Linked DNA regions of Homo sapiens. The protein of the gene in region 3 interacts with the protein of the main gene of each other region in a pairwise test. Each region holds a gene or a part of one and is shown on either strand. Other genes may lie near its edges.

Evidence for each region.
Region 1: the proteins of RAB25 (region 3) and MYO5B interact in binary tests that used the Homo sapiens proteins (3 or more experiments, as listed by UniProt).
Region 2: the proteins of RAB25 (region 3) and RAB11FIP1 interact in a two-hybrid assay, tested with the Homo sapiens proteins (one study listed by BioGRID).
Region 4: the proteins of RAB25 (region 3) and RAB11FIP3 interact in a two-hybrid assay, tested with the Homo sapiens proteins (one study listed by BioGRID).
Region 5: the proteins of RAB25 (region 3) and RAB11FIP5 interact in a two-hybrid assay, tested with the Homo sapiens proteins (3 studies listed by BioGRID).

The regions. Positions count from the first base shown.
Region 1 is NC_000018.10:50,184,529-50,189,282, reverse strand, and holds part of MYO5B (unconventional myosin-Vb), read left to right. Parts: intron 1-4,754. UniProt on the Homo sapiens protein: May be involved in vesicular trafficking via its association with the CART complex. The CART complex is necessary for efficient transferrin receptor recycling but not for EGFR degradation.
Region 2 is NC_000008.11:37,874,732-37,879,485, forward strand, and holds part of RAB11FIP1 (rab11 family-interacting protein 1), read right to left. Parts: intron 2,821-4,754; coding exon 2,378-2,820; intron 592-2,377; coding exon 1-591. UniProt on the Homo sapiens protein: A Rab11 effector protein involved in the endosomal recycling process. Also involved in controlling membrane trafficking along the phagocytic pathway and in phagocytosis. Interaction with RAB14 may function in the process of neurite formation.
Region 3 is NC_000001.11:156,059,815-156,063,959, forward strand, and holds the start of RAB25 (ras-related protein Rab-25 precursor), read left to right. Parts: upstream 1-1,345; 5' UTR 1,346-1,586; coding exon 1,587-1,629; intron 1,630-4,145. UniProt on the Homo sapiens protein: The small GTPases Rab are key regulators of intracellular membrane trafficking, from the formation of transport vesicles to their fusion with membranes.
Region 4 is NC_000016.10:501,526-506,279, reverse strand, and holds part of RAB11FIP3 (rab11 family-interacting protein 3), read right to left. Parts: intron 3,277-4,754; coding exon 3,183-3,276; intron 3,017-3,182; coding exon of another isoform or gene 2,987-3,016; exon of another isoform or gene 2,615-2,986; intron 757-2,614; coding exon 653-756; intron 1-652. UniProt on the Homo sapiens protein: Downstream effector molecule for Rab11 GTPase which is involved in endocytic trafficking, cytokinesis and intracellular ciliogenesis by participating in membrane delivery. Recruited by Rab11 to endosomes where it links Rab11 to dynein motor complex.
Region 5 is NC_000002.12:73,102,465-73,107,218, forward strand, and holds part of RAB11FIP5 (rab11 family-interacting protein 5), read right to left. Parts: intron 1-4,754. UniProt on the Homo sapiens protein: Rab effector involved in protein trafficking from apical recycling endosomes to the apical plasma membrane. Involved in insulin granule exocytosis. May regulate V-ATPase intracellular transport in response to extracellular acidosis.

The DNA.
Region 1 (4,754 bases), on a different chromosome or scaffold from region 3:
TCCCCTACCAGTCTTTTCCGGAAAACACTGCCTTACAAGTCTCTTGAGCAGGAATCCTTGTCTCAGGATCAGATTCTAGGAGCCCAAGTTAACCATAACTCATGGTGGCTTAGCTTAGTGGATGTTGAGAATCTCAAGGGCTTTGGCCCCTCTATGGTCCCAGGAAAGGCTGAAAAGAAGCATGGAGGTTGTGTGTCATGCTGTCACTTTCCTTCTGAGGCTCATTCTCTGTCTTGCATGTGGTTTTTTTCTTCTCTCATCCCTAGTTCCAATTCCGTTGATCCTCTGCTCCCCGTTTTCAGATGGGCCTATAAGCCCAGTGGATCCTGCTTCACCATGTTGGCGATCATCAGAATTTTGAAGTTTGTACTTGTGACTTGTGGATGTGGCATATTCCAATGGCCTGTAACCTGTAATCATTGAGCAGGCTCTTGCCCTGCCCTCCTTTGTTGATAGGTGTGTGTGTTTTTTTTTTTTTTTTTTTTTTTTTTTTTTTTATGACAGAGTCTCACTGTGTCACCAGTCTAGAGTGCAGTGGAACGATCTCAGCTCACTGCAACCTCTGCCTCCTGGGTTCGAGTGATTCTGCGGCCTCAGCCTCCTGAGTATCTGGGACTACAGGTGTGTGCCACCACTCCCGGCTACTTTTTGTATTTTTAGTAGAGACGGGGTTTTACCATGTTGGCCAGGATGGTCTCAATCTCTTGACCTCATGATCTACCCACCTCAGCCTTGTTGATAGTTTTTATGTGATGCTTTATCTAAGTAGGCTGAGATTCTGGAGAACAGAGGCCATACCAGATGTTTTTAGGAGCCTTCAGTGTGTTTGGTGATAAAAGCTAAATACACAAAGTACACTAACAATACAGGATTATCTGTGTGTCATTAGAGGAGTGCACATACTCCTCTACAAGTTACAGGCATTTTGTAGAAGTGTTGGTCTGGTGGGCTACAGTATTGCGGGAAAGGCTTCCTTTAAGGTGTAGTGGGACATGACTGGGGCCTAAAGAATGAATAGGATTTGAAATGCATGAGGAGGCTGTAAAGAAGGATGTTCTCTCAGGAGGAGACAGGGGAGAGTGAGTTTAAGCATAGGGACAGGTATGAGCTAGATGTATATGGGGATAATTATAGCACTATTTTTAACTATTTTGAAATATACACTTACAGAAACATTGCAAAAATAGTGCAGTTTCTATATTTTTCCAGATTGCTCCAGTGTTAACATGTCATATAACCATAGTGCAATTATTGAAACCAGGAGGTTAACATTTCTGTAATACTACTAACTGGTCTATAAAGCTCACCGGAATTTTACCACCTTTTTCACTAATGTTCTTTTTCTGGGCCAGGATCCTGTTTAGGGTTCCACATTGCCTTTAGGGTTGTAGCTCCCTGCCCCCCTCTAGTGACAGTTGCTCAGTTTTTTGTCTTTCATGACCTTGACACTTGAAGAACATTGGTCAAGCCAGGCACAGTCACTCACACCTGTAATCCTAGCACTTTGGGAGGCCAAGATGGGAGGATCCCTTAAACCCAGGAGTTCGAGACTAGCCTGGACAACATAGCGAGACCTCATCTCTACAAAAAATAGAAAAAATTAGCTGGGTGTGATGGCATGCACCTGTGGTCCTAGCTACTCTGGAGGCCGAGGTGGGAGGATTGCTTGAGCCTGGGAGTTGAGGTAGCAGTGAGCTGTGATTGTGCCACTGCACTCCAGGCTGGGTGACAGAGTGAGACCCTGTCTGCCCACCGCCCACCCCCCCAAAAAAAGCATTTCTCAATAATTTTGTAGAATGATTTTGGGTTTGTCAGACTGTCTTATGCTTACATGGAGGTTGTGACTTTTGGGCAAGAACACATCATAAATGCTGTGCCTTTCTCACTGCATCACCTCAGGAGACAGTGATATCAATGTGTCCTGTTACTGACGGATCACTTTGATCCCTTGGTTAAGCTGATGCCTGTCAGTTTCCTTTTATTGAAGAATGGAATTTAGAAATGAAGATCTGGTTGCTAGGTGTACTCATTACTACTTTTTGTAGTTATGTAGAAATTACAGAGACTAGAACTCAATAAATGTTTTATTAAGGGCAAGGGAAGTAGAAGAGTCAACTATGAACTTGAAATATCCACCTTGAGTGTGGACAGAAGTCAGGTTGGAGCAGGGATAATTCTTGATTTTTGACATGTTGGGTTTGGGATGAAAATGGTTTGTCTAAGTGAAAGCATTTATTTACATTTGGAGATTTACGAAAGAGCTTAGAGGAGAAATGTCAGGATCTGGGGTTCTTGCAAATGATGCCTGGGATTTGCTTTTCTTTAATGAAGAAATGCAGTTGTCTGATAGCATGGTGTTAATAAGGGTAAGATCAGGAGCTTGGTATGGGCATTTCCAAGGCCTTTGTGACTATGATCTTGAGGTGGACACCCTGGATATTGTGGCGCTCTCAGCTCCGACACATTGGAACAGATACTTTCTAAGCCTTGATTTCTTTATCTGAAGAATTGGGGTGGTACCTGCACCATGGGAAGGTTACTGGAGGCTTATAATCCTAATCCATGTGAAGTGCTTGTCTAACATAGTGTTGGCAACTGTTCATTAGTTTGCTTCTCCCTCCAGTCACCATGCTGGGTGGCAGTCAGCATTATGTGGCTAGCATGTTTTTTCCCCTAACCCTTCCCTGCTGTCCTGAAGGGGTCTTGATCACAAGGAGACTTGGTGAAAGAGGAAGTAGGATTGCTACAAACATGAACTATGAGAGCGGTAGACAAGATATGGTACTCCCCACCACCCCTGGGGAAGGAGCAAGAGCAGTCTGAAAGAAGTTTTAAGTTTAACCTGTGCTTTCTGGTCTCTTATTATAGCTTTAAAGGAAAATTAAAAAGCATTTTTCACAATGCTTCTGTTTTCCCTCTGTGAATACAAATGATTATTGAAACAATCCATACAATGCAGGAAAGACAAAAGCTCTGTAGTCTCATTCCCAGAAACAGCTGCTCTTGACCACTTAGGCATGTTCTCTGGACCTCCGTTGTCCAACAGGGTAACTGCATGTGGCTGCTGAGCACTTGCGATGAGGCTGGCCCAGCTTGGGATGAGCTGGAAGCGTGCAGTACTGTACACACTGGGTTTCCAAGACTTAGAAAAATGTATGCGAAATATCCTTCATACTTCTTATATTGGTTATGTGTTGAAGTGATTGTTATTTATATATTGGCTAAAATATTCTGTTCAATTCACCTTTTAAATGTGGTTATTAGAAAATTTAAAGTACCACAGGTGGCTCACAGTTGTAGTTTGCATTCTGTTTCTCTTGGGCAGTGCTGCTTTAGACTTATGCACAATATGTACTCAAAACAAATGGGATCATGCCATGTCTATTACTCTAAATCTTAATCTATGGCTATCTTTTCCTGTAGCCTACAAAGGCAATTTTGCCATTTTTAATGGCTGCACAAGGCAGCATATGGATGTACTGTAATTTTTTCTTAAAAATATACATTTTTTAAATTGCCAAGATCTGATGCCATATACTGTAATGTGTTTAACCATTCCCATGCTGATGAGCATTTAGGTTGGTTCCAATTATTTTCCTTTTGTTTTTTGTTGACAGTAATAATTGCACAAATTTATGGGGTTCAAGTGATTTTTTTAATACACGTATACAATGTATAATGATTAAATCGGGCAATTAGGTTATCCACCACCTCAAACATTTATCATTTCTTTGCATTAGAAACATTCAAGATCCTATCTTCTAGCTTTTTTGAACATACTAATAAATTGTTAATCTTTTGATACTGTGAAAGATTGTTCTTGTAACCTCATTTATTTTCTCAGAATAAATTCCTAAAGCTGGAATTGCTGGCATGCACATTTATAGTCTTCATTGATATGGCCAATAGCCACCACAAGAGAACCAGTCTGTTTCTTCGCCACTCTAAGTTCGGGTCATTGTTCTTTCTCTCTCTCTCTCTTTTTTTTTTTTTAAATTCTTATTCATACTAAATGTTTTACACATGTTTTAAAGTTGACTTTCATTGGAGGGTTGAGCCTCTGTTCACATGCTTGGTAGGCTCTACATTATTGATCACTGGGAACAATGTGTTGTTTTCCTTATATTTCTTGTTTGTATTAACTGGCATTATTTATAACTGTTTTTGCTCATTTAAATGACTACTCTATATTTTTTATTTTTTTGAGACAGGGTCTCATTCTGTCACCCAGGCTGGAGTGTGTGTGGTGGTGCAATCATGGCTCACTACAGCCTCAATCTCCTAGGCTCAAGCAATCCTCCCACCTCAGCCTCCCAAGTAGCTGGGAACAGGCATGCGACACCATGCCCAGCTAACTTAAAAATAATATATATATATATATTTTTTTCTGTGTGTGTGTGTGTGTGTGTAGAGATAGGGTCTCACCATGTTGCTCATGCTGGTCTTGAACTCCTGGCCTCAAGTGATCCTCCCACCTCAGCCTCCCAAAGTGCTGGGATTATAGGCATGAGTCACAGCACCCAGTCCACTCTATATTTTGAGATAGGAAAACATGGAAACCAGAATATTCAGGATACAATATATACATTTAAAGAATAAAGCACCTTGGCATGTATTTTCCCCTTCATTTGTTCTGAGCTTATGTATTTTGAACCCTCTAGTTGGACAACTACTGGTTATGGAGTGCTTTTGTGCCAAATCACTTCTCAGCACTACATGTTAGCTCATTTAACAATAACACAGGCTTATGTGAC
Region 2 (4,754 bases), on a different chromosome or scaffold from region 3:
CCATCAGCATGCCTTCCTTCTCCCTCCCTGGGACCGTGAGAGGGTTTTCACCTTCACTGCCCTTAGCCACATCCTTCTTCCCCGTCATCAGAGACAGCAAAGAGGACCTCCTGCTCTCTGGCTTCTTGCTCTCCTTAGCTTCTTTTGTGGCCTCTGAGTTTGCGGGGGCCATGTTTTCCCTGAGGTCCCCACTGACCAGTGGGGCAGGTCGGTAGGACGGCAGGGTCATAGACTTCAAGGAGTCCTTGGTGGAAGATTCGGAGAGCTGCCTGTCAGAAGACAGCCCACCTCCTTCAGCAGGCTCCTTCCAAGACCCAGCCGCCAGGTTCTCTGTAGAAGAGAACAAATGCTTCTTTCTGAAGCCCTTGGGGGATGGGGAGGAGGACGGGCTGCTATCCTTGATCTCACCCTTGGCTTCTGGCTGCTCCAGGTAAACATGGTTCCCATTGATGCAGACATTAGAGCGGGAAAGGACATCATTCTTAGACCGAAGGCCACCAAGAAAGGAAAGTCCTTCCTTCTTGGGAAGGGTAAAGTTGACCTGGTTCAGTTGCTTAAGATCCGTACTCGCTGTTCTCTTGTGAGACATGACTTTGGGAAGAAAAAGAACAGAAAGGGGATAAGATGTTAAACGGGTGGTTTGCAGTGTAGGGGCATCTGTCAACGTCTGGATACATTTCTGGTTGCCACAACTTGGAGGGGGTGTGCTGCTATTCGTATCCAGCAGGTAGAGGACAAGGATGATACTGAACATCTTACAACGTATAGCACAGCCCCCCACGACAAAGGCCTGTCTAGTCTAAACTGTCCACAGTGCTGAGGTTGAGAAACTCTGGGTTAAACCAATGAAAAGGGCAGCACTCTTGGTAGAGTAGCAGAATCCGGCCAATGGGAGGGATTTAGACATTGAAATTGAAGTTCAAAATACATAATTAACTCAGAGCTAAAGGAAGCAGATTCCTTGGCTTCTGATAAGGCTATATCCCACGAGGGTTGAGCACATCACAGGAACTCAATAACTACCTGATGAATTAATGAAATATCAGAATTACCATAAGGTTCCATGGTTTTACCCTTAAAAAAAAGAAAAAAAAAACTTGGAAGACACTCATTCTGTTAGCTCTAAAAGCTTGTACTAGTGGACATCATTTATAGAGCCAGGAACTCTGGAAAAGGAATTTATACATTCTTAGAAACCAGAGGGTATAATCCCAGCACTTTGGGAGGCCAAGGCAGGTGGATCACTTGAGGTCAGGAGTTCAAAACCAGCCTGGTCAACATGGTGAAACCCCAACTCTACTAAAAATACAAAAATTCACCGGGTGTGGTGGCACGGACCTGGAATCCCAGCTATTCGGGAGACTGAGGAAGGAGAATTGCTTAAACCCAGGAGGCGGAAGTTGCAAAGAGCCAAGATCGCACCATTGCACTCCAGCCTGGGTGACAGAGCAAGACTCCATCTCAAAAGAAAAGAAAAGAAAGAAAGGAAGGAAGGAAGGAAGGAAGGAAGGAAGGAAGGAAGGAAGGAAGGAAGAAAGAAGGAAAGAAACCAGAGGGCTTAGAAATAGAGAGGGCATCTCAGCCATGGGCAATGGTTCACACCGGTCATAAGAGCCCTTTGAGAGGCTGAGGCAGGAGGATCACTTGAAGCCAGGAGTTTCAGACCAGCCTGGGCAACATAGTGAGACCTCATCTCTAAAAAAAAAATTTTTTTTAATTAATCAGGTGTGATGATGCACACCTGTAGTCCCAGCTCCTCAGAAGGCCAAGGTGAGAGGATTCCTTGAGCCCAGGAGTTGGAGGCTGCCGTAAGCTATGATCGCGCCACTGCACTCCAGCGTGGGCAATAGAGCAAGACCCTGTCTCTAAAACAAACAAACAAAAAATATTTTAAAAAAAGAAACAGAGAGGGCATTTTTTTTTTTTTGAGACAGAGTCTCACTCTGTCACCCAGGCTGGAGTGCAGTGGCACGATCACAGCTTACTGCAGCCTCTACTTCCTGAGCTCAAGCAATCCTCCCAGCCTAGCCTCCTGAGTAGCTGGGACTACAGGAGTATGTCATCACATCTGGCTAATTTTTATATTTTTTGTAGAGACAGGGTTTCACCATGTTGCCCAGGCTGGTCTCAAACTCCTGGGCTCAAGCAATCTGCCTGCCTCAGCCTCCCAAAGTGCTGGGATTACAGGCGTGAGCCACCACGCCTAGCCTTAGAGAGGGCATCTTAACCACCGCTATCATCATCCCCACCACCATGATTTTGTAATTGAGGAATTGAATTAAACTCTTTCTCTTGAGATTTGTCTGTTTCTTCTCTCTCAGAACGAAGCATGGTAAGAGGAAGAAGAGAGGTCAAGCAGGAAGAGGCAGAAACTCACCATCCGAGGCCGAGGAGGACTCATCCTCATTGTCATCTTCATCCCACTGGGACTGAAAGTCTCCGGGACGAAGCAGCACTTTTTCTGGCTTTGAAGTCGGCAGGACAGACATGGACTGGGAAAGAGGCGTCTTCTGCAAATTTGACTTGGAAAGTAAGGTCTTGATCTTTGATTTCTTTTTCTTGTCTTTAACCACAGACTCATCATCACTGTCGACCGAAGGTGTCGTGCTAGGGATGATGGCGGAGGCGGTGTCTGACCCACTGTCCTTATTCTTCCCCTTGATCTTGTCCTTCAGCTTTCCAAATGGATTCCGAGACTTGTCTTTCATAGAAAGGTCAAACATGCTGGCAGTCATGTTGTTTCTCATAAACTGGATGTCAACCTCAATTTCTCCTCGCTCCTTGTCCTTCTTTCCTGGTTTGGATTTCAACTTATACCACCTGAAAGGAGAAAGGCTGAGGAGTTACCTTTGAATGGAAGCAACTGCAACAATGTTCACAATCCCCATGAACTGGCCTCTCCTCTCTGCTACCAGCAGCCTCTTCAATGCATGCATTCTCATGCTTTCTCTTCGGGAAGTGGTAGATGAGAGCAGAATTTTTTTTTTTTTTTTTTTTTTTTTTTTTGACACAGAGTCTTGCTCTGTCACCCAGGCTGGAGTGCAATGCCACCATCTCGGCTCACTGCAGCCTCTGCCTCCTGGGTTCAAGTGATTCTCCTGCCTCAGCCTCCTGAGTAGCTGAGATTACAGGAGCGCGTGACCATGTCCAGCTAATTTTTGTATTTTTAGTAGAGATGGGGTTTCACCATGGTAGCCAGGCTGGACTCGAACTCCTGACCTCAGATGATCCGCCCGCCTCAGCCTCCCAAAATGTTGGGATTACAGGCGTGAGCCACTGCACCCGGCTGAGAGCAGAATTTGCACTTTTATTTCTTTTGTTTTGTTTTTTATTTTGCACTTTTATTTTTGAGAAGACACGCGCTAGACAAAGATAGGATCCAGTGTTGTGCTTAGCGTATAATCACCTCAAATCCTGATTCAATAAAGAGCTCATTCTAAAAATAAAGAAAAAAAAATATTCCATGGAATCACTTCCGATGAGTGATGTTTTCCTTCAGTAGGGTAAAAATGTAAAGATCAGGGCAGGTGCGGTGGCTCACACCTGTAATCCCAGCACTTTGGGAGGCTGAGGTGGGTGGATCACAAGGTCAGGAGTTCGAGACCAGCCTGGCCAATATGGTGAAACCCCATCTCTACTAAAAATATAAAAAATTAGCCGGGTGTGGTGGCAGGCGCCTGTGGTCCCAGCTACTCAGGAGACCGTGGCAGGAGAATCACTTGAACCCAGGAGGCAGACGTTGCAGTGAGCCGAGATCGCACCACTGCACTCCAGCCTGGACAACAGAGTGAGACTCCATCTCAAAAAAAAAAAAAAAAAAAAAAAGCAAAGATCATACACAAACAGTTAAGAAGGGTGGCGTGCAAATGATGTATAATTAAATCTCAGAGAAAATCAAGTTTGTAGTAAGGAATGGTCCCTGCCAGGGAGTAAAAAAATAATAATAATACAACACAGAATTAAAAAAAAAAAAAAAGTGGGGAGGGGGTTGGGCATGGTGGCTCACACCTGTAATCCCAGAGATTTGGGAGCCTGAGGCAGGAGGATCACTTGAGGCCAGGAGTTCAAGACCAGCCTGGGCAATATTGCGAGACTCCATCTCCATAAAAAATTAAAAAATTTGCCGGCATGGTGGTGTGCGCCTATACTCTCAGCTACTCAACATGAGCCTAGGAATTCGAGGCTGCAGTGAGCTATAATTGCACCACTGCACTCTAGTCTGGGTGACAAAGTGAGACTCTGTTTCTAAAAATAAATAAATAAAAATAAAGAATTTTTTAAAAGAGTGAAATCAGGCTAGGCACAGTGGCTCACGCCTGTGATACCAGTACTTTGGGAGGCCGAGGCAGGCAGATCACCTGAGGTCAGGAACTCAAGACCAGCCTGGCCAACATGGCGAAACCCCGTCTCTACTAAAAATACAAAAATTAGCCGGGCATCATGGCGAGCACCTGTAATCCCAGCTATGCAGGAGGTTGAAGCAGGAGAATTGCTTGAACCCGGGAGGCGGAGGTTGCAGTGAGCCAAGATCATGCCACTGCACTCCAGCACTCCAGCTTAGGCGACAGAGCCAGACTCCATCTCAAAAAAAACAAAAAAAAAAGTGAAATCAGTCAGTTAGAAAATGACAAACACTATATGAGTCCACTTATGTGAGGTTCCTGGGTTAGTCAAATTCATCCAGTCAGAAAGTAGAATGGTGATTGCCGGAGGAGGGGAAGGAGAGAATGAGGAGTTAATGTTTGATGGGTATA
Region 3 (4,145 bases):
AATGGCACAATCTTGGCTCACTGCAATCTCCGCCTCCCGAGTTCAAGCAATTCTCCTGCCTCAGCCTCCTGAGTAGCTGGGATTACAGGCGCGTGACACCATGCCTAGCTAATTTTTGTATATTTTTAGTAGAGACAGGGTTTCACCATGTTGGTAAGGCTGGTCTTGAACTCCTGACCTCGTGATCCGCTGGCCTCGGCCTCCTAAAGTGCTGGGATTACAGGTGGGAGCCACCGCACCAGGCCTCTTTTTTTTTTTGAGACGGAGTCTTGCTCTGTCGCCCAGGCTGGAGTGCAGTGGCGCGATCTCGGCTCACTGCAAGCTCTGCCTCCTGGGTTCACGCCATTCTCCTGCCTCAGTCTCCCGAGTAGCTGGGACTACAGGCACCTGCCACTACGCCTGGCTAATTTTTTGTATTTTTAGTAGAGACACAGTTTCACCGTTTCTACCATAGAGCCAGAGAGGGCCCCCTCCTGTTTTTTTATCTCTTACCAAGACCTCCTGGGGCTCCTCATTCCTTCAGGATGGTCTCGATCTCCTGACCTTGTGATCCGCCCGCCTCGGCCTCCCAAAGTGCTGGAATTACAGGTATGAGCCACCGCACCCGGCCTTTTTTTTTTTTTTTTGAGAAGCAGTCTCTGTTGCCCAGACTGGAGTGCAGTGGCACGATCTCAGCCCACTGGAACCTCTGCCTCCCGGCTTCAAGCAATTCTCCTACCTTGGCCGCCCAAGTAGCTGGGATTGCAGGCGCCCACCACCATGCCCAGCTAATTTTTTTTTTTTTTTTTTTTAGACGGAGTTTCGCTCTTGTTACCCAGGCTGGAGTGCAAGGGCGCGATCTCGACTCACCACAACCTCCGCCTCCTGGGTTCAAGCGATTCTCCTGTCTCAGCCTCCCAAGTAGCTGGGTTTACAGCCATGTGCCACCACGCCCAGCTAATTTTGTATTTTTTTAGTAGAAACGGGGTTTCTCCATGTTGGTCAGGCTGGTCTCAAACTCCCGACCTCAGGTGATCCGCCCACCTCAGCCTCCCAAAGTGCTGGGATTACAGGCGTGAGCCACCGCGCCTGGCCTCAAGTGGGTTTCTGAGGGGCTATTTCTTGCTCATTAGTTGGGGGACCGGCCCTCACCACAGATTCCAGAAGCCCAGCAATGCACACTCAGCCCTCAGTGGGCTGTCTCTGAAGGTCCTGTCCCTTTTTCGCTTCCCCCCCGCTGGAGCTGCTTCTCCCGCTTGCGGGAGCCCAGGCTGAGAGCAGACACCCAACCTGTCGAACCTGTCTGACGTCATCATCTCTCCACCCACCTGGGCCCCAGGTCTCCAGCCACCCCGCTCTTCCTGTTCTCAGCTTCCGTCCTCTCTGCTTCCTTACAGCACCCCCACCTGCCAGAGCTGATCCTCCCTAGGCCCTGCCTAACCTTGAGTTGGCCCCCAATCCCTCTGGCTGCAGAAGTCCCCTTACCCCCAATGAGAGGAGGGGCAGGACCAGATCTTTTGAGAGCTGAGGGTTGAGGGCATTGAGCCAACACACAGATTTGTCGCCTCTGTCCCCGAAGACACCTGCACCCTCCATGCGGAGCCAAGATGGGGAATGGAACTGAGGAAGATTATAACTTTGTCTTCAAGGGTGAGTTGGGTTCCCTGAAGCAAGAGGAAGCCTGAGAGACCCAGAAAGAGATTGAATAGAGCCAGAGAGGGCCCCCTCCTGTTTTTTTATCTCTTACCAAGACCTCCTGGGGCTCCTCATTCCTTCAGAAAGAAAGCTGCAGGGAGTGGGGGAGGGTCTGGTTGCAGGGGCAAAAGTCAGGGAGCTTCTGAGTATGCTCTACTGTGGTAAATAATGATGTTGATTCCTCCTTAAGAGTGCTGAGTTAGGCTCCTCTGCCCCGTTCCTAATAGAAACCCAAATCCCTGGTGTCAGCCAGTGCAGCACAAGAGATGGAGGTCAGACTTCAGAAAGGACTTCCCTCTTTTATTTTTTTTTCTGAGACGGAGTCTTGCTCTGTCGCCCAGGCTGGAGTGCAGTGGTACAATCTCAGCTCACTGCAACCTCCACCTCCTGGGTTCAAGCGATTCTTCTGCCTCGGCCTCCCAAGTAGCTGGGACTACAAGCACCTGCCACCACGCCCGGCTTATTTTTGTATTTTTAATAGAGACGGGGTTTCACCATATTGGCCAGGATGGTCTGGAACTGACCTCATGATCCGCCTACCTCGGCCTCCCAAAGTGCTGGGATTACAGGCATGAGCCACCACACCCGGCCAGGACTTCTCTCTTGAGAAGAAAGGGAAACCAGCAAACAAGAGGAAGAAAGTCATCTTTTCTGGGCAGGTGTACAGGGAACGAGAGAAAGGAGAGACACATCCCATTATAGGGTGGGGCAATAAATACATAGGGAAGACAGAAAATATCATGAATTTGCTGCAGAGTCTGATAGAATCCAGAGGACTCCTAGGGTTGTAGCCTCGTCTGCCTGGCCCTTGGCTGACTCACTGGACCTGCATACCAGGCACTGGGCTCAACTTTGCTGTCCCTGGAAGCATGCATGTATCTTTCTAGCCCCTGTGTTTGGTGCCTTTGCTGTTTTCCAACCCCACCTTCATACTTCCTTTAGGGCAGGGTGGACTCTCCAGCCACCCTACCCCAATGCCTCTCCCAACCTCAGCCCGGCCCCTCCCTTGAGCTGGGACTCTCACTCCAGAACCCGCCCTTGAGCTGGGGAACCTGTACTACTGGCATCTTTTCCAGGAAGGAAAGGGTTAGCAATAGTCTGGGGCAATAATATGAGGAACTACCATTTATTGAGCACTTACTATGTACCTGCCACTACCTCATTAATACCATAACAATCCCCGAAAGTCATATTTTATTTTGAGGGGCAGTGTAACATTGTGGTCAGGAGCCAGACTGGGTTCAGATCTCAGCCCTGCCACTTACAAGTATTGCGGGTTGGTCAGCCGGGTGCAGTGGCTCACGCCTGTAATCCTAGCACTTTGGGAGGCCGAGGCGGCGGGATCACTTAAGGTCTGGAGTTCCAGACCAGCCTGGCCAACATGGGGAAACCCTGTCTCTACTAAAAATTCAAAAATTATCTGGGTGTGGTGGCACGTGCCTGTAATCCCAGCTACTCGGGAGGCTGAGACAGGAGAATCACTTGAACCCAGGAAGCAGAGGTTGCAGTAAGCCGAGACTGTGCCACTGCACTCCAGCCTGGGCAACAGAGCAAGACTCTGTCTAAAAAAAAAAAAAAAAAAAAAAAAGTATTGAGGGTTGGGTTGGGGTCCCTAGAAGCAGACGCTGAGAAGAAGTTGGGGTGTTCAATGTTTGTTTGTTTTTTGAGACGGAGTCTCGCTCTGTTGCCCAGGCTGGAGTGCAGTGGAGCGATCTTGGCTCACTGCAATCTCCGCCTTCCTACAACCTCCGCCTCCTGGGTTCAAGCGATTCTCCTGCCTCAGCCTCCTGAGTAGCTGGGACTACAGGTGTGCACCACCACACCCAGCTAATTTTTGTATTTTTAGTAGAGACAGGGTTTCATCATGTTGGCTAGGATGGTCTCGATCTCTTGACCTTGTGATCCGCCCTCCTAGGCCTCCCAAAGTGCTGGTATTACAGGCGTGAGCCACCGCGCCCAGCTCAATGTTTTTTTACAAATCAGCACCTGTGAAAGGAAGGGAGAGGAAACATAATTGGGCAGAGGGAGAAGTCAAACAGCAACACAGGCTGGACAAACCTGGGTCAAGGGCGGGGAGCTCTGTGATTGCCTCACCTTGCTTGAGCACTGGGTGTAGGCTGCCCAGAAAAGGCATGACTTCCAGTGAGGCCGCTGTCTGCACCAGAGGCAGACGCTGAAGGAGCTGACAGCTGGAGCCTGTCTGCAGCCTGCACTCCCTGCAGCTTGGGGCAAGTCCTTCCTTGAAGGCTGATCTGGCCAGCACATCTCTGTGTTTACAACACTAGCCCTGTTATCTTGGGCAAGTCATTTGACCTCCAAAGCGCCTTGTCTGTAAAAACAGGTAAAATAGTAATGGGATTCATGGCATTCTTATGAGGATTAAATGAGGTAATATGTGTAAAGCTTTTAACGACACTGCCTGGCACATAGTAAGCATTCAGTACACTGTAAACATGAACCATTAGTATCTC
Region 4 (4,754 bases), on a different chromosome or scaffold from region 3:
AACAGTCCTGCAAATCGGCTATGAGACAACATGGCGTGCCTCGTGTGAAAAACACCGAGAATTACACGGTATTCTAAGAAAAGTCTGCAAACCAGAGTGAGGCAAGCAGCTCCCACTCTTTCTCTGCAAACACGGCGTCACACTTCGCTTCCTCCCCAGCACTCCTGCCCACAGCGATGAGACTGCGCGTCCTGTCGCGTACTCAGCAGTCACTGCTCATTTCGCTTTCTGCTGCTGAGCGACTTCTCTAACCTGCATTCTTCCAGGACGGGCAAACCCCGTATGGACCAGAGTGGTGGGAGAGCTGCACCTCCAGGCCTGCTGGTGAGGCTGAGCACTGCGTGGGTTCGCAGTCAGTTCCTCCTCTGTGTGGGTCAGGTCTCAGCGCTCCCGAGAGGGAGGCAGTGCCCTCCTCTGGCCCTCTGTGTGTCTAGGGTTCCATGAGAGCACCAGTCAGAGCCTCGGGTCGCCTGCCTGCAGCCCACTGGGTAGGCTCAGATGACCACCTGGCACCACCCCCTCAGCCGGCTTCCAACGGGGATGGACGGGTGGCCAAGCCCCTGCTGTGTGAGGTAAAGAGAAGTAAATGGGGGCTGACAGGCGGGCACAGGAGGCGCCACGCAGAGGCCCGGGTCTCCTGGCCCAGGCTCACCTGTGCACCAGCTGCAGGTTCTCCTGCCTCAGGCGGCTGTGTTGCTCACCGGTGGCTGCCGTGTCCTTTTCCAGCTCCAGCACACGCCTTTCCAGGAAGACAACCTTGGCAATGAGACCAGGCTTCAGGGTCAGGCAGCCAGAAGCAGAAGGGCCTGCACCCCCAAGGGAACAACCTGGGAGGCCGCCTGGGGATTTTCTCAGCACAGAATCAGATCCACCTAGCTAGGCTGGTGTTGGATCCAACTTGTCCCATAAACCCACAAAGGTGCAGCTCCTAATGGGGCCGGGGTCTTGGGGAGCACTGTCATTCGACCCACAAATGCACACAGTGCCGCAGCTCTGAGGGCTCGGGGCCCAGGGGTGCCTTTGGACTGGCTGGCTGGTGGGCAGCAAGACTCAGCCCCCCAACACACAGTTGGGTCTCTGCTCAGCCAGATGCAGCTCACAGAGGCAGCCCAGGTGCCCATGGATGCAAGGGACAGACAGATCCATGTCTCGGTCCCTCCCTCAGAGAGTTCACACCAAGATGAGAATCAGACACCTGCGGAGGTAGGAGAAGGAGTGAAGGGAGCAGAGGAGGACTTGGCCTGGGTCAGCAGACTTGAGATGCTAGAGAAGTTGTAGGGAGGAGGTGGTGGGGATGCAAGAGGAGGTGAAGTACAGGAGGAGGTGAGGAGGTACAGGAGGAGGTGAGAGAGTACAGGAGGAGATGGGGGTATAGGAGGAGGTGGGGGAGCAGGAGGAGGTGAGGGGGTACAGGAGGTGAGGGGTGCAGGAGGAGGTAAGGGGGTACAGGAGATGAGGGGGTACAGGAGGTGAGGGGGGTACAGGAGGAGATGGGGGTGCAGGAGGAGGTGAGGAGGGTGCAGGAAGAGGTGAGGGGGTATAGGAGGAGGTGAGGGGGTATAGGAGGAGGTGAGGCGGTACAGGAGGAGGTGAGGGGGTACAGGAGGTAAGGGGGGTGCAGGAGGAGGTGAGGGGGTACAGGAGGAAGTGAAGGGTACAGGAAGAGGTGAGGGGGGTACAGGAGGAGGTGAGGGGGTACAGGAGGTGAGGGGTGCACAAGGAGGTGAGGGGGTACAGGAGGAGATGGGAGTGCAGGAGGAGGTGAGGGGGTACAGGAAGAGGTGAGGGGGGTACAGGAGGAGGTGAGGGGGTACAGGAGGTGAGGGGTGCACAAGGAGGTGAGGGGGTACAGGAGGAGATGGGAGTGCAGGAAGAGGTGAGGGGGGTACAGGAGGAGGTGAGGGGGTACAGGAGGTGAGGGGTGCACAAGGAGGTAAGGGGGTACAGGAGGAGATGGGAGTGCAGGAGGAGGTGAGGGGGTACAGGAGGAGGTGAGGGGGGTACAGGAGGAGGTGAGGGGGTACAGGAGGAGGTGAGGGGGTACAGGAGGAGGTGAGGGGGTACAGGAGGTGAGGGGGTGCACAAGGAGGTGAGGGGGTACAGGAGGAGATGGGAGTGCAAGAGGAGGTGAGGGGGTACAGGAGGAGGTGGGGGGGTACAGGAGGAGGTGAGGGGGTACAGGAGGTGAGGGGGTACACAAGGAGGTGAGGGGGTACAGGAGGAGGTGAGGGGGTACAGGAGGTAGTGAGGGGGTACAGGAGGTAGTGAGGGGGTACAGGAGGTGGTGAGGGGGTACAGGAGGTGGTGAGGGGGTACAGGAGGAGATGAGGGGTACAGGAGGAATTGAGGGGGTACAGGAGTAAGTGAAGGGGTCACAGAAGGTGAGGGGGTGCAGAAGGTGAGACGGAGTCTCCCTCTGTCGCCCAGGCTGGAGTGCAGTCGTGCAATCTCGGCTCACTGCAACCTCCACCTCCCAGGTTCAAGTGATTCTCCTGCCTCAGCCTCCCAAATAGCTGGGATTACAGTTGCCCGCCACCATGCGTGGCTAACTTTTGTATTTTTAGTAGAGACGGGTTTTCACTATGTTGGCCAGGCTGATCTCAAACTCCTGACCTCAAGTGATCTGCCCGCCTAGGCCTCCTAATGTGCTGGGATTCCAGGCGTGAGCCACCACATCTGGCTGAAAAGCGGGTCTTGACCACGGCAAGGCTGCCTTGCCCTGGCTGCTGTCACCCATTCCATTCAAGGCCCCAGGAGAAGCCCGTTCCTCAGGCTGTTGGCTCTGCAGTAACTGCAGGGCCAGCCCTTTTCTCCCAAATCATGGGTGCCCCAGGTCGCGTCTCCATGGGCCTGGTGGACTGAATGTCTGGGTGTCCCCCAGCCCGACTCAGACACAGTGGGGGTGGGATACCCGAGGGTGCTCACTCACTGCCCAGTCCACTCCTCCCAGCTGGCCCTTCGTGCACAACAGGAAGACTCCTTTTTCTCACATGGCCACGAGACCCCTTGGGGAAACCTGCCAAAGAGCATCGGGGCTGGATGGACAGTCTGGGGAGCCCTGGAGGACATGGGGTCACCTCCGGCTGTGCTGTCCCCACCTCCCGGGGTGTCTGCAGCGGCCCTTAGGCGTGGCTGTGTTCTAAATCCCCTACTTGCCACCTACCCAGCCCTCCAGGGCCTACCTTGTCAGCAATGTCCTCCTCTGGGCCCTCCATGAGCTCGGGGGAAGGGTCCTCCAGGGCCTCCATGGTCAGGGCCCCTGACTGGTGCAGGTACCTACAGAAAAGGCACAACAACAGAGGGAAGAAAGGGAAAAACCACAGGACATGCTCCGTCAGCACAAGCACTCCCAAGTCAATCTGAAAAGCAGGCAGCAGCATTGCAGGGGACAGGTCCTCCCCTGATCTGGGTGGTGGTCTTCTCCCACTTAAAGCACTATATACAGGGGGAGGTCCCAGGCTGGACATCTTTACCAGGGGCTGGGAGAAAGCAGGCCGTGCTCTGTGGTCTCAGAGTCTTCCTGGCGCTCTTTGGAACCTGACAGAACATGACCTCAGTCCCAGCCAGCGAGTGGCAGAGAGGACTTTGTACTTGGCTGCAATAAAACATGCCCTTCTTCGCAGAGACACGAACAATCTCGTCTCTACCAGAGGCCTGTGAGACATCAGCTCAGGACCTTGACCTGCAGACACCTCCCCTGTGCACATTCTTGATCTCAGACTTTCACAGGTGCTTTCTGTGGCAGGAAGAGTGAGGGTCCCAGGAAAGGTGTGGATCCCAGAAGTCTCACTCAGTGTCACCCTCACGGACACACTGGGAAACTGGTCCGACCGAGTCCAGGAAGACAGCAGACACACGTGTCCTCTGTGGCACCAGCTCCTGTGGACACGCCCCCAGCACCGCAGGCCATGCCAGTTACTACCCGGGCCAGGCTCGGGGACACAGCCTCATGGTCCTGAGTAGACGCAAAGGCCCATAGGCTGCGGCCTTGGGGCAGGAGCTTCTCCAGGGAGTGTGAACTTAGGCGCGCAGTAAGCGCGTGCTTGTGGTCACCACGTGGTCAGATTCGCTGTGGTGAATCTGTACCAACCCAAACTTGCCGGGAGTACAGAAAACTCTCAGAGCACTCGCACAGAAGAGCCAACAGCAAAGGTGCGTGTTCAGTTCTTTATACATCCTGGGAACCTCAGTACCAAGCCAGGCTCCAGGCTGACAGCCTGATGCTCAGAACTGCGTGACCGTTAAAAAGCACTGGCCCTCTCCGAGCTTCCTTGCCTATGAAATGGGGGGACCCTCTCCCAGCCTCCTTGCCTATGAAATGGGGGGACCCTCTCCCAGCCTCCTTGCCTATGAAATGGGGGGACACTCTCCCAGACTCCTTGCCTATAAAATGGGGGGACCATCTCCCAGCTTCCTTGCCTATGAAATGGGGGATCCTCTCCGAACTTCCTTGTCTGTGAAATGGGGGGACCCTCTCTGAACTTCCTTGCCTGTGAAATGGGGGGACCCTCTCCCAGCTTCCTTGCCTATGAAATGGGGGACCTTCTCCGAACTTGTCTGTGAAATGGGGGGACCCTCTCCCAGCTTCCCTGCCTATGAAATGGGGGGAGCCTCTCTGAACTTGTCTGTGAAATGGGGGGACCCTCTCCCAGCTTCCTTGCCTGTGAAATGGGGGGACCCTCTCCCAGCTTCCTTGCCTATGAAATGGGGGACCCTCTCCCAGCTTCCTTGCCTGTGAAATGGGGGACCCTCTC
Region 5 (4,754 bases), on a different chromosome or scaffold from region 3:
AGGTAACAGCCCAGAGCAGAGGTTAAAAAAATTTTTTTTTAAGCCTGAACTAGGACAGGAACAATGGGGAAGGTAGGAGAGCCAGGGGGGCCCCTGGGAGCACCCCTTTTTCGCCCCCTGCGGCAGCACTATGGCAGAGCCACTCCACTCTGATCTCTCACTACTGTTGGCAGCAGGGACAGTTATTGACCTCTTATCCCTCACCACCTGAGAAGGGACCCGAGATGCAGAACATCTTCTAACACCTGCCAGGTAAATGACATGGAACTGGCAGGGCTCAGCTTTTGTCTCAGAAACAAGTTGGAAAAACAATGATTTTAAGGGCCTTGTGTGAGAACCCCAGTGGACTGGAAGATGGGAGACCTAGGTTCTAGTCCTGGCTCTGCCTTACTAAGTGGCTTGAAGCAGCCATTTCACCTCTGTAAAATGAGGGTGATAAAATCATGCAGTTAAAGACAAGGTAAAGTGAAACTAGAACTATTATATTCAGAGTATGGTGACACAGTTGGAAAACCCTTTTCCCTAGAGCCTCCTCCACCCTGATGCCTCCTCTCCTCTCCAAGTGCCCACCACAGCAGCCTGCCTCACACACTGGCACACAGGAGCTGTGTGGGCCTCAAGCCAACCCCTGCTGTCTCCCCGCATCCACCGCCTACCCCATCTTTTGATTTGGTATCTACAGTAAAACTGCAAGCCAGACATAATTGCAGGACAGGATACAGCCTCTTATCAGGCCAGAAGATGATTCTTATCACCTCCTCTGGCACCATGCCTGGCACCAGCAACCTTTGGAGGGAGCCCAGGTCCTCATTCATGAGTTCCCCCTGCCTCTGTGGGGACAGCTCACTCATCCCTCCTCAGACCCCAGCCAGGTCCAGCCTCCCTCCCTCCTGGGCACAAGCACTTTTAATCCTCATCCTAATGCTGTAGGCTCCAAAGGTCTGTCACTGTCAGCTCACCCAGCACAAGGAAAAGCTGCAAAAATGGCTGGAGACAAGTCAAACCACAGAGAGCAACAGAAAAGATGTAGGGTTGATAGCACAGTGTAGGGAGAAAAGCATCAGGCTTAGACATCAGAAATCTGGCTGCCACTAAAGAGTTGTGTGACCTTGGACAGGTCATTCCACCTCCTGAGACCCCAGTCTCCATATTCGCAAAAATGGTGATCCCCCTGTCTGCCCTCAGGGAAGAATGAAATGAGGTGATACTGGGAAGGCACCCTTAAAAGTAGGCCAAACCACACAGAAAGATGTGGGTTTATTGTCTATCAAAGGCCTTTTACAGGCCATCATCAGCCCCATATAAGTGAGGTGGCCCAGGACCAAAAAGCAACAACCCTGCCCAGGAGGAAGGAGAGAACCCGCAAGATGACCTCTCTCAGGGGATCTCTGGCAGGTGGAAAAATAAAGAAATTCCACTTAACCCATCCCCCTCCCCAGTGTGCTCCTAACCCCATATTCACCCTGACCAGGAGACTCAGGTTGAGGAAGACAAAACCAAGTGGCGATGGTCCCCTCTGCCAAGGTCTCAGTTCAGACCCCACAACAGGGGGAAACAAACAATAACTTCCCTGCCAGGCTCATGGGAAGTACAGAACTGTGTGGTGAGAACGTTGCATTTGGGAACAAGGAGGGAGGGAAGAAAAAACACAACGCATTTGCCTTTAAATGCAGAAAACACCTTTGGAAGGTTACACAAGAACTGGTAATGTTGGATGTCTCTGAAGAGAGGAGCTAGGTGACTTAAGGTGGGTCAAGGGAAATTTTTTTCATTATGTGCCCTTCTGTACCTTTAGAATTTGGACCAGGTGAACTACTCAAAAGTAAATAGGGGCCAGGTGTGGTGGCTCACACCTGTAATCCCAGCACTTTGGGAGGCTGAGGCAGGCAGATCACTTGAGGTCAGGAGTTCGAGACCAGCCTGGCCAACATGGTCTCTACTAAAAATACAAAAATTAGCTGGGCGTGGTGGCACGCACCTGTAGTCCCAGCTGCTCGGTAGGCTGAGGCAGGAGAATCACTTGAACCTGGGAGGCGGAGGCTGTAGTGAGCCAAGATCACACCATTGCACTCCAGCCTGGGCAACACAGCAAGACTCTGTCTCAAAAAACAAAACAAAACAAAACAAAACTAAATAGGAAGTAAAGAAAGTCCTGCTGTTTTGCTGAGAGTGGCACACAGGGAACTAAGCTTGGCTCCCCTCACTCCCTCTCCTGGCCCAGTCCCACCACACTCACAGTTTCCCTGCCTCCAACTCACCCTGCCTCTAATCAGGTCTCACCTGTTATTCAAGGCCTCACCTCTCCCAAGAAGCCCACCCTGATCACTCCAACTGGTGAGCTCCCTCTTCTCCTGACCCCCTCATTCTCTCACGCTTTTTATATGCTGCTTTGTAGAGGAATTGTCCTTGCTGCGTTAGGCTTATCTCAAACATATTTTAGCCCTTCTGGAGAAAGGGCTATCCACTTTATTTCCCTGGTTTCCCCCACAGCACTGACCTAGGCACAGTGGTTACAATGGTTGTCCAGTAATTGCTTCCTGGATGTTGTGAAACAGAAGGGAAAAAATAGCAAATGACTGTATTGCTGCAGGAGGAAGAACAGGATGGCTTGGAGTGTTCTGTCACAGTAAAACCAGCATGTGACGTCTTGGGAAGGATTACGGAGTCTGGTATGTGCTGATGCCCCCAAGCCCTGCTTGAAAGGAGCAAATCTCCCCAGGGTGGAAAGTGCCCTGGTGGAAAGTGAGGCTGACCTTCTCAGGCCTCACTCCACTCCTTTTTTTATTTTTATTTTTTGAGACAGGATCTTGCTCTGTCACCCAGGCTGGAGTGCAGTGGGGCAATCATTGCTAATCGCAGCCTTGAACTCCCGGGCTCAAGTGATCCTCCCACCTCAGCCTCCTGAGTAGCTGGGACTACTGGTGTGCACCACCATGCCCAGCTAATTTTTTGTATTTTTGTAGAAATGGAGTCTTGCTATGTTGCCTAGGTTGCTCTTGAACTCTTGGCCTCCAGTGATCCTCCTGACGCGGCCTCCCAAAGTGCTGGGATTACAGGCATGAGCCACCACACCCAGCCCTCACTCCACTCCCGAGAGGTATCTGGTGGCAGTGACTCCCTCCCAAAGTATGAGACAACATCCCCCAGCCTCTGGGACAGACATAAGGCTAGAGCTGCAGACCAAATGTGCTTATCCCAATAAACCAAGGACTCACCCAGGAGAAGCAGGTCATGCCTACAGAGCACCAGATTAACCCCCGAGATCCATGTCAAGGAGAAGAGAGGAAGCCTTGGCAGGCAGCAGCTGAGCACCTGGCCCTGTGCAGAGCAGGGTCATGGAAGACATGGGGGAAGACTGAGGTGGGCAGTGTGGTGTGGTGGCCAAGAGCATAGACTGGGAAGCCAGACTGCCTGGGTTCACATCCTGACTTTGTGCCATGTGCTGTGGTCAAGTCCAGTGACTCATGCCTATAATCTCAGCACTTTGGGAAGCTGAGGCAAGAGGATCACTTGAGAGTTCATGGCTGCAGTGAGCTATGATGGCACCACTGCATGCCAGCCTCAGTGATGGAGCCAGACCCTGACCCCACCCCCTCAAAAAAAAGAAAGAAAAAGCAAAGTCACTTTACCTCTCCGTGCCAAGGTTTCCTCAGCTGTTAAACAGCACCTACACCTCAAGGGCTTGCTGTGGACAAATGGAAGTCCAGACCTTAAGACAGTGCCAGCACCCAGATAGGCCTTCATCAGCAATGCACTAGACCAACGAGGCAATGAAAATAATGCACCAAAACAGGTGCCACATGCTCCAGATGTGGGGATTCAGAGAAGGCTGGGGAGGCAGATGGGTTCCATGATGGCCGACAGGTCTCTGGTGTATGTCCCCTCCTCACAGAGGAGGAGACCACAGCCAGCGCCAGTGGCTCTGTCTGCTCCGAACATCTCCAGGGCTCCCTGTCTAGGCCCCAAAACACAGCACTTGGCTATAGGGCTTCCTCCAAATGTAGGGAGATATCCAGGCTTCCCCCCCTTTGGAATCTCTCCCCCACCAGTGGCCCACTCTTGGCCTTTCAGGCCTCTAGAACTGCCTTTGGATTGGACTACCCTTCCAGGTCAGCAGAGAAGCCCAATGTCCCCATCTCACTAAAACCTGGCAGGCACTTCCACAGAAACTCCGGGGTGCACACAGGGCTCCAAATGCCACCTCTTCTTTACCCCAAATCCTACAGCTCTGTGGGCTGCCCGGGTCTAATGGAAACCACACAGAGCACACCCTCCACTAAGTGCTGGGTAGTGAGAGTGTGCAGCTCTCCCTCTGCAAACCCCAGTTTCCTTGTCTGAGCTCTCTTCCAGCTCCCATGCTGGAGTCCCATGAGTAAGGGCTGTGCTCCCTTCTCCACTACCAGGTGAACCAAAGGTCACAGTGGCCTGTGATACCCCCTCCCCACCCTGCAGCTTCTCGGAGGTGCTGGCTGCCCCTGGGAGCCCCGTTTTGGGAGGCCCCACTTACTGCTCCTGAGAGGCCGGGGCCCAGCTCCATACAGAGGCCTCATGTGGCCAGCCAAGTCCCTCTCCTCTCTGGCCACCATTGTTCCCAAGGTAGAAATAACCTCAGGCCAGCTCAGTAAGGGCACTGTGATCAGACTCTTCCCTGAAGGGACTGCCAGGTGCACAGCAGACTCACATGTGGACTCATTTTTATTACTTGGCTGTGGGGAAGAACAAAACTGCTTCATGGCTACACTATTTTGCAAAGG